Regions from separate parts of the Homo sapiens genome. Here region 1 is linked to region 2. Evidence: fine-mapped expression QTL. A gene starts in region 2. The other region holds a variant in brackets. All regions are shown on one strand. Distances are between the middles of the regions. Region 1 overlaps GPR161 (G protein-coupled receptor 161). Region 2 holds the start of MPC2 (mitochondrial pyruvate carrier 2).

Evidence for each region. PIP is the estimated chance that this variant, and not a neighbour inherited with it, causes the effect.
Region 1: its variant is the best candidate, but not a certain one, in a credible set for the expression of MPC2 in lung (GTEx, PIP 0.53).

What each region holds. Positions count from the first base shown.
Region 1 is chr1:168,123,187-168,128,564 of GRCh38, reverse strand. The region is part of intron 1 of GPR161 (G protein-coupled receptor 161); the gene reads left to right. Among named protein-coding and RNA genes, the nearest start is that of GPR161, 11 kb to the left of the region's middle. The variant G/A (reference allele first, on the strand shown) is at 3,094.
Region 2 is chr1:167,934,884-167,940,261 of GRCh38, reverse strand. MPC2 (mitochondrial pyruvate carrier 2) reads left to right here and starts at 3,190. Exons shown (of 6, transcript NM_001143674.4): 1 at 3,190-3,323; 2 at 4,364-4,529. The coding sequence starts at 4,421. It overlaps DCAF6 (DDB1 and CUL4 associated factor 6), which reads right to left and starts at 3,579. Exons shown (of 22, transcript NM_001198956.2): 1 at 3,254-3,579. The coding sequence starts at 3,350. RefSeq lists silencers at 3,174-3,413, 3,444-3,513, 4,114-4,283 and enhancers at 3,694-4,003, 4,454-4,563.

The DNA of each region.
Region 1 (5,378 bases), 190 kb before region 2:
GATCTGTTTATTAAGTACATACAGTAAAAAACAGAATGAGAAGAATGAACCCAAATTGTTTGTGTAGAGCAGGTTTTCTCAACCTCGGCACTACTGACGTTTTTGACCGGATAATTCTCTGTTGTTGGGGGCTATCTTGTGTATTGTAAAATGTTTAGCAACATCCCCAGCCTTAGGTGCCAATAGCATCCCCCAGGTGTGACAACCAAAAATGTCTCCAGGCATTTCCAGAGGTGCGGGATCTGGAGAATGGGGATTGAGAATCAGTGATGTAGGATAGTGAGGTAGGGAGTGGGTTTGATTATTATCCAGTGTCTACTGCTTGGATATTTTCAGACCCTCCCCAGCTAACCTCATTCTTTTCACTGATATCATTTCAGCTCTTCTGCTTAAAAAGAAAATATATGCAATTTCAGGGAAGGGGTTTTGAGCCAAAGGAAGCATGGAATATCAGCCCCACAGTTACAGGTGGAGGTAAATTAAAATTTCATATTTCTCAGTCAGCTGCTTACCTGGGTGCCCACAACCCTCAGCCTGAGCATCTGTGTGGTAGCTGCAGCAGCTCAGTTCTGGGAGGGGGCATCTTCCTATAGTGGGGCTTTAAATCTTCAGGCCCTGAGCCCCTTATGGAGTCAAAGACACTTCCACTTTGCATTCTCTTGCAATGCATCTTTTCTGTCTTCCATTTCATCTCTTCCGCATCAACAAGTAGTTGATATGCTCTGGCTGTGTTCCCAGCCAAATCTCATCTTGAATTGTAACTCCCACAATTCCCATGTGTCATGGGAGGAACCCAGTGGGAGGTGATTGAATTATGGGAGCGGGTGGGTCTTTCTTGTGCTGTTCTCATAGTGCATGAGTCTCATGAGATCTGATGGTTTTAAAAATGGGAATTTTTGCCTGCTGCCATCCATGTAAGATGTGACTTGCTCCTCCTTGCCTCCCAGCCATGTGGAACTGTAAGTCCATAAACCTTTTTCTTCCCAATCTTGGGTATGTTTTTATCAGCAGCATAAAAACAGACTAATACAGTAGTTGAATGAAACCTCTCTGTCTTTAACTAAATTTTTTTTTTTTTAATGAGATGGAGTCTCACTGCATCACCGAATCTGGAGTGCAGTGGCGCCATCTTGGCTCACTGCAATGCCCACCTCCTGGGTTCAAGTATTCTCCTGCCTCAGCCTCCAGAGTAGCTGGGATTACAGGTGCCCACCATCATGCCTGGCTAATTTTTGTATTTTTAATAGAGACAGGGTTTCACCATGTTGGTCAGGCTAGTCTTGATCTCCTGACCTTAGGCAATCCACCTGCCTCAGCCTCCCAAAGTGCTGGGATTACAGGTGTGAGCCACTGTGCCCGGCCAGCTTGAATTAAAATTTGAAAGGGAAAAAAAGAATTGAGTTTTCTTTTCATGTCTTAAGTAATTTTTGTAAACATTCCTTGAGTTTATCTTCTGACAACCTTTTTGCTCGTACTTTTACCCTCATTACCTCGTAGATTCCTCTTGGCAGTTGTATAAAGTAGAGTATATCTACTCTCTTTTTTGTCTTAGGAGAAATTGAGTCTCAGAGAGATTAAGAGACACACACACAGTCACAGGGAATTCAGACCTGGGTTTGGTAAAGATTCCAAGGCCCATGTTCTTTCTATTCGATATCAGGTTTAAGTGGATATTAGTGTAGGGGAAATATAAAATATTTGTTTTCTCCACATGCAGAGTGCTGTTGGGAATTCAAAGGGGAAACTGAGGAAGCATTCATAAGCTTTCTGGAAGGGAAAACATCCTCACCTAAAATAAAAACTTGTATTATGGCCGGGTGTGGTGACTCATATCTGTAATCCCATCAGTTTGAGCAGCCATGGTGGGCGGATTGCTTGAGCCCAGGAGTTTGAGACCAGCCTGGGTAACATAGCAAAACCCCCTCTTTACAAAAACAGTACAAAAATTAGCTAGGTGTGGTGGCACACACCTGTAGTTTCACCTACTTGGGAGGCTGAGGTGGGAAGGTCACCTGAGTCCAAGAGTTCGAGGCTACAGTGGGCTGTGATCACGCCACTGCACTCCAGGCTGTGACAGAGTGAGACGCTGTCTCAAAAAAAACAAAACAAAACAATACTTGTATTATGAGAAGACATGAATGTCTGAAAGGACAACTAAAATATAAAAGGCAAACCCTAGACCGGAGGAGATGGTAAGGGTCATTGTAAAGGTAGCATTTTCTGGAAAGGCCTCTTCAGAGTTCTTAAGGTGGTCTAGAGATAGACGGTGTTCAAATAAGTGGCAACAAGGAGGTGAGTGGCCAGCGTAGGGAATGGCTTATGGTGGTAACCTCTGAGCTCTCCCAGGCTGCATGCATCCTCTCCTGCCCTATAGTGTCACTTCAGCTGGAGAAAATGCTCAGTTACAGAAAGCTGCTGTGAGTGAATGACAACATAAACAAGGAATTTGAATTCTATTGACCGCAATAGCATCTATAGACGTTTTCAGAATAATAGTTTACATATGTGTGTAACCTCATTTATTTGGTCTTCAGACAGCTGGGGGTATATTTGGTTGGGAGACCCTTCACAGTAGCTGCCACCCACGGTTTGGGAATGCCTGACTTAGAGGATGTGTCATAGTAGAGTTTATAGGGGAAATAAAAATAGGGCCGGGTGCGGTGGCTCACGCCTGTAATCCCAGCACTTTGGGAGGCCGAGGCGGGCAGATCATGAGGTCAGGAGTTTGAGACCAGCCTGGCTAACACGGTGAAACCCCATCTCTACTAAAAATACAAAAATTAGCTGGGCCTGGTGGCGGGTGCCTGTAGTCCTGGCTACTCAGGAGGCTGAGGCAGGAGAATCATTTGAACCCGGGAGGTGGAGATTGCAGTGAGCTGAGATCACACCATTGTACTCCAGCCTGGACGACAGGGTGAGACTGTCTCAAAAAAAAAAAAAGGGGGGGGAAGCAAGATAGTCAAGATACTGTACATGTTATGCAGGCCTGTGCAAATATCTTCTGCACTGACACCTACGGTCTCTTCAAAAAAATTCATATTTTCTGGAGTTGGCCTTTTGAAAGATTCTAATGAAAGTCTTTCAGTATAAAAC[G/A]TATTTGTCTGCACTTATATATTGGCCTTTCTGATGGTATAAAATCCAACAGGACTCAACATTCTTGTTTAAATTTTTGTTTAAATTCAGCAGTTTCCCTCCTACAGCTTAAAACATATTAAATCCTATTCTGGGACCTAGACTATTTCAAGGGTCTTTGTTTCCTGGAACAAATCAGCACTCCCCAAAGGCACAGGAGGAAATGACTTGTATCTGACAGAGTCTGTACTCAGAGAACTTTGCACTGAAGCCCTCCCTCAGGATAGTATTAGCTTTTACTTTATGCAGACCTTTAATACTCTTGACAAGGGAAACTGCAGATAAGTATACTTTTATAGGGAAAAGGGGGCAGCTGAAAGTTGAAAGAAATTACGGAGAAAGTATAAAAAGGAGACAGAGAATATGCAATACACATTTGATGTAAGAGGAGAACATTCTGGTTATTAGTCCATTTTGTGTTGCTATACAGGAATACATGAGGCTGGGTAATTTATAAGGAAAAGAAGTTTATTTGGCTAATGGTTCTGCAGACTGGACAAGAGTCATGGCGCCAGCATCTGCTTCTGGTGAGGGCTCCCATGGCAAAAGGAGGATCAGGCATGCCACACAGCATGAGAGGGAGAGGGAGAGCAATGGGAGGAGTACCACACTTTGCATGAGCTCATAGAGCAAGAACTTATTACTATGGGGATGGCACCAAGCCTGCCCCCATGACCCAGACACCTCTAGGCCACACCTTTGACACTGGAGATCACATTTCAACATGGGATTTAGAGGGAACAAATATCCAAACCATATAAATGACCTTTACCAGTCTTAAGGGAATCACTGTGTTTTGGATCATATAATAATGGCTCACTGTGATAACCCACTAGCTGAGTGACTGTGGGCAAGCTAACAACCTTCTCTGAGGTTCCAAAAGAAAATGCTTCCATTAGAATTGCTCTCTAAGGTTTTTCCCAAGTCAAAATTCCACGTATCTTGGCATTTAATGACCTCAAATTATTATGAAAATTATGTTTTGTATACCTTATTTTAAAATACAGAAAAATGTGTGATAGATTTTCATGAATTTTGCTTAAAGGCTTAAAGAGTTTGGGTAGTTTAAGGTGGAATTAATAAAACTCGACCAATTCAGAAAACTCAGCTATCTAGAATGGAGCATTTCCTGAGGATTAGCTTGAGTGTTAGTGCATTTTTGAAAGGGAAATTGTAACTGGACACCCTCTCCTTCCAATGATGAGAACGTTTGATTTTATTTGGAGTTATCATGGGAAAAGGGATACAAGTTAGGGTTGCAGCAGTGTTTGCCCTGGGGGTTGAGGAGAATGGGACAGGGTGGATGGGAGAAGGAGATAGATGGGCAGATGAAGACGTGGTGGCACCAATCCTTACCAGCAGCTGAGCTGACTGCATCATCATATTCATCACAGCACAGTTTGCCTTCCTCAGCTCCTCTCTTCTCACTTTCAACCTGTGTGTCAAGTTAGGATTGCTTTTTACAACATGCGAAGGCAACTCTGCTACAGGACTTAACCAAAAAGGGGTTGACTAGCTGGGGCTGGGTGTAGTGGCTTCACAGTTCATTAGGTAGCTTGGGCTGCTTCAGCGTCAAACAGACTTGGAACAGCCTTGGGCAGTTCTGATCTTTTGTGACCCAGCTTCACCTTAGGGATTTTCTGCTTTCTATTGCATGGGACTTCCAACTACATGGTCAAAAAATGGCTCTTCACGTTCACCTTCAAGCATTGACTTTGAGTTCCAGTCAGGAGAAAGGGAAAGGAGAAGGGTAAAAGCCACAGCTGAGTCTGTCCCTTTGTATTGGAGAATGGATAGCTTTCCACCACTTTGCAGACTGGGTCTAATGGCCACTCCAGCTTCCATGCAAACAAGTGTGTGTGTGTGTGTGTGTGTGTGTGTGTGTGTGTGTGTGTATGTATGTGCATATCTATATCTATATCTATATAGATAGATATAGATAGATAGATAGACAGATACATACATATAATTTTTTGAGACAGGGTCTTGCTCTGTTGCCCAGGCTGGGGTGTAGTGGTACAATCATAGATCACTGCAACCCTGACCTTCTGGGCTCAAGCCATCCTCTTCCCTCAACCTCCTGATTAACTGGGACTACAGGTGTGCATTACCATGCCTGACTAATTCTTTATTTCTTTCTTTGGTTTTTAGTAGATACAAGATCTTGCTATGTTTCCCAGGCTGCTCTTGAACTCCTGAGATCAAGCAATTTTCCTGCCTTGGCCTCCCAAAGTGTTGGGATTATA
Region 2 (5,378 bases):
ATCTTGTGGATTTGGGAGCTCTAAGTAAACATATCTTTTAATCATAAATAACATCTGGGAAATTATTCATCTTCATTCCCACAACATAATAGGAAGTTTTCTGAAGTATAATTTTCTTTGATGGGAAGAAAGGAGATAATTAATCAGTTTAAGTAAAATCAATTACAAAGCTTGAATATTAACATTGAAAGGGCACATGCTATGGTGAAATAACTGGAAATGTAAAGGCTACAAGAAAAATTTATCTATTTGTTCTATCCCAATTTTACTATTTAGCAGTAATTCACTGCTAAAAAATCTGTAGAAATACAAATAATGAAAATGTATCAGAAAAATACTTAAATCTACAACCCTGTAGATAGACAATCGTAATGTTTAAATATTGAAGTCTTTTAAAAAAGGAATCTATTTCCTTAGGAAAATCCTAACTTGGAATTTGACTTTTAAAAGGAAGGCTTTATAAGTGTACCATACTTTATTTATTTATTTATTTATTTATGACGCAGAGTTTCCCTCTGTCGCCCAGGCTGGAGTGCAGTGGCACAATCTTGGCTCACTGCAACCTCCACTTCCCAAGTTCAAGCTATTCTCCTGCCTCAGCCTCCCAAGGAGCTGAGACTACAGGCGTACGCCACCACTCCCGGCTAATTTTTGTATTTTTAGTAAAGACCAGGGTTTCACCATGTTGGCCAGGCCGGTCTCAAACTCCTGACCTCAAGTGATCACCCACCTTGGCCTCCCAAAGTGCTGGGATTCCAGGCGTAAGCCACCGCGCCCGGCCAAGAGTACTGTACTTTAAAAAGTCATTTTATCTAATAATAAAAATAAAATTAATAATAATGATAAAGTCATTTTATCGCCACACACAAAAAAAGATGGTAATTATGTGACATGATGGATATGTTAATTAACTTGATTGTATATGAAGTTATCAAGTCCTACACCTTAAATATAACAATTTTTAATTGTCAATTATACCCCAATAAAACTGGGAGGGAAAGTCATTTTTTAAAAAAAACCATCACTAATTCAAACATTACCAATGTGGATTTTGCTGCTTCCTGAATGCAAAGCCAGGATTAGCACTGTAGTATAGAAGAGCTGAATAACAGTGTAAAGGTCTACTAAGGGTAAAGGCCAATAAATTAGTTCTTTGCAAACATTTTCAAGTTTCGATACTTTCAAAAAGTATTTTCAAGTACTTAGAAAACCACTTTTAAAGGAAGTCATTCCAAAAATGTCCTATTTTAAGAGTATATATTATCATATCTAAAATATTATTTAAGATAAAGAACTCCCTGTATGTATACATACACATTTGAAAAACTGTAATTCAGGCTTTCTAATATAGTCAGTGAACCCTTCAATTCCCCTAGACCCAATACACAAATTCCATTTCCATTAGGGAGTTGGAGTAGGAGGGGGAAAAGCAGGTATATGGTTTTGTTATATTTTAATTAACTCGTTTGTAGATATAGCTGAAGTAACTGAACCAAAAGAAAACACTAAAATATAGAACTATATACAAGTACTTAAACTGTCCAACTGAGATAAAGGACCAAATTATAAATGTATCCATGCAAAACAATGTTAACGTTTGTTTTATTAAGCTAAAATTAAGTTCTTTCTCCGCAAATAAATTCTAAAAGAAATACTGCACACTTTTTTTGGTAAATAGTTTTAAAAACCAGACTCCAGCTATGTTCAATTTTAAAATGATTAATCACCACTCTAGGTACTTATCCTACAACAAATGCACAGAAGCTTGTAGAATGATGTTCATTAAAATGCTGTAAGGGCGAACGTCTACTTAAAGAAGAAAGGTTGAGTACCCTATGGTACTTCATAATGTTACCTACTATGTAATAATTTAAAAGACAGAATCAATCTATTTTTACTGCCATGGAAAGATCTCCAAAATGTGGAGAAGTGAAAACAATGTTTACAATATGACACCATGCACTCAGGTGTCTCTCTCATACACACACAAACACACACACACCCCAGCATTTGTACATGTACATATGTACTTGTAAGAATGCAAACAAAAAGGTCTGGAAGAATATTCAGAAAACAGAAAATATTATTTCTAAGGGTGGCGGAGTGAAATTGAATGGGAGGGATCAAAGGGATTTTTGCTTCATTTTTATTGAGTTTTTATAAACAAAATGTATTCGTATTTTACTTGAGACACTAAAAAGAATTAAAAAATTGCATGCTAACTTTTCTTAAATAATTTACAAACCAGAACTGTTGGTTGTAATGAGATTTCATTTTCTTCTCTTTACTTGAAATCAAAAACAAATGAGAGCAACAAACACTTTTTAACTAGCAAGTGGCAAAACTGGAAAGAAAAAAATTTTATGATGTTGTTTGCCGTATCTCCAAATAGAAAGAAAGAGTAATGAAGAGTATACAGGAAGAAACAAAAAAGACCTTTACTAAGTACGTCCATTTTTAAGAAACCAAACTTTTTAGTTGACTCGGGCGTGACCTAGAATCCTCAAAAAAAAAATGTTATGCAAAACGAAAAAAGTGGAATACTGTTCCCCCAAGTACTGAAGGTTGTTTTTAGAAAGCTTAACTACGAAACTGTAAATGCCAAGTGTGTTTTCCAGGGGTGGGAAGAGGAACGTGAAACCCTACACCACCTTTAAGCGGTCAAAACGAACTGAAGAGCAGAGTGGAACTGGGAGAGCGCGCGGGGGTGGGGAGAGCTCAGCTATCACTTTTAGGTTTTGGCTCAGCGCCGCAAAAACAGTTTACACGGATTCTGTCTGGAGCGTGAAGTCCCTGAGGGTGGTCAACGCGTCGCAGCCGACACCTAAACCCTCTGGAGATTGAAGGAGAGGGTGGGCAACAACTTAGGTTCTTCGGCTGAGCGGGGAAAGCGCGCTGGAAAAGAGCAAAAGAGCTAACTTTTGCTCTAAACGCGGCAGCTCCTGGAGGTTCCGCAAGTCTCCCGAGTCCCAACCCATCAGCGACCCCAACACCTTTACAAGCCAGTACCTTCTGCCCACGGCCCGGCCCTCCGAGAAAAACCCAGCAAGGGCGGCGGCTGGCAGCATGCACAGGGGGCTTGACTGGGGGAGGCACCGGCACGGAATTCGGCAACCAAGGCCCCACCCAACACCCCAGAGTCTCCGGGCGCCCCCACCGAGACGCCGTCCCACCTCCAACAGACCCGGCAGCGTGCCCCCTCCCCCACTCTAGGCGGCGACCTCAGCGCCTCCGCCCCGGGGCCCCCGCTCACCCAGGTAGCGACTCCGCAGCCGGGACGGGTCCTCCAGCCCGAGGGACCTTTTCCTCACGTCCCACAACAGGTGTGGGTAGGAGCCACCCCGAGACATGGCTCTGCCTGAGCCGGGTGGGAGGGGAGACCACCGCGTGGGGGAGGGGAGGAGGGGGAGGGGACACCCGTTTCAACACCCGAGCCGCACCGGCACCATCCGCGCGCCGGGCCTCCAGGGCGCAGCGTTAGATGGCGGTGGCAGCAGCGGCGCCTGGGCCCCTGAAGCCCGGCCGCACCCGGGCCGGAGCTCGCCTCATACTCTCCTTCTTAGACTAACCAGAACATCCAAAGATCAGCAACAGTCTCCTCCCTCAGCCCCCCTCCAACAGGAGGAGGCGGAGGCGGAGGCGATGGCGACTCCTCCCTCTCCTCGTCCTGGATACCCTCCCCGCCAACCCTTTCTCGCGAGATGACGACCACCCTGGGGACTGAGGCTGGTGTGTGCTGCGGCTGCCCTCACCCTGGAAGAATGCATTCGGGCCACTCTAACCAGATCCTTAAGTCGCTAGGGATAAAAGACGAGTAGAGAGAGAAGCTACTCAATTCTGTAGTCTCTCGCTCACGAGTCTCCAGTGAAAAGAAGCAAGAGAATTGTGCGGCATCATCTTTAGGCACTGAAGGCCCAAAAACCCATTTTAACTACGGGCCTGCTTAATCAAAGTGAAAGGGCAGTAGAACCAGCGCAGCTTCACTTTCCCTTCTCCAACATGGCCTCGAGGGCATGGGGAGAAGGAGGAGGTTTCCGCTCGACCCCGCCCGCGCCTCGGGGCGGGCCAATCATGGCGGGCAGCTCGGCCTGCGCAAGCGCGCTGCCAGCAGGGCGCAGCGCAGACTTGGTGAGGTGATTATTTTGGCACCTGTTGCCATGGCTCCTCCCTCTCTCCTGCCGGGGGCCGGAGGCGGACCGGGGGCTGGCAGTCGGCAGCCTCCGCCCCCTCAACCTTCGCGGGGCGCGGGCCGCAGCTTTTCGGTTCACAGCGGGCAGGGAAAGCCGCGGGAAGGGTACTCCAGGCGAGAGGCGGACGCGAGTCGTCGTGGCAGGAAAAGTGACTAGCTCCCCTTCGTTGTCAGCCAGGGACGAGAACACAGCCACGCTCCCACCCGGCTGCCAACGATCCCTCGGCGGCGATGTCGGCCGCCGGTGCCCGAGGCCTGCGGGCCACCTACCACCGGCTCCTCGATAAAGTGGAGCTGATGCTGCCCGAGAAATTGAGGCCGTTGTACAACCATCCAGCAGGTAATGGACCCTGAATGGCTCCTTATCGAGACCTTCCTTCTCGCTTCCTCTAAAATGGACCTTTTAGAGGCCCTCTGACAACTGCCTCTAGAGGCATCCACAGCCCCAATCCCTTCCCTTCAAGTGAAGCCGTCTACTCTCCTAGCCTGTGCATTTCACCCTCTCTCCTGCAACATCTCTTCCTAAGCCAACGTATCTCAAGTCAGCTCCCTTCCCCACCTATGTGACATCCGCTCCCTTACGCACGACTCCAACCCAAACCTGATCTCCAGATTTGAGCCTTCTCAACTTCTGCGGCCACCAAACTGTCTGGGGCCACCATGAAACACTCATTCTCTTTCTCTTTTCGAATTGTGGCATATTAACCCACTCTAGGCAGAGCTGGATGGGTGGTTTGTCGCACTGTAGGGTTTGGAGTAAAGGTCACTTTCTTCAGCTGCTGCTGGCAGAGGCCTGCAGACTGAGCCCTCCCCCAAACTGCATGCTTTACTTCATCCAGGCTTGAGTCAGTGTCATTTCTCATCCCATAGGTCCAGTGTGTTTTTTTAAGTCTATCCTTATTTATGAAATTGTTGAACAAGCTCTACCCAGAGCTTTTTGTGTGGACAGACCTGGATATCATTCTCTTCTACCACTTATAGTTGTGACCTTGAGCAAAAGCCTAGATCTCTGTTTGTGTAATACGCGGTCTATGAGAATGACAGATAACATATGTGCTTGACTCTTTGTAAATGCTCAGTAAACGTTACATCTCTCTTTGCCTACTGGAAAACTGTGTTCTTGTGGTTGAAAAAAAAAACTGTAAGAAACTGAAAGATTCCAATCCCTTTATTAAAGATCTAGAATTCT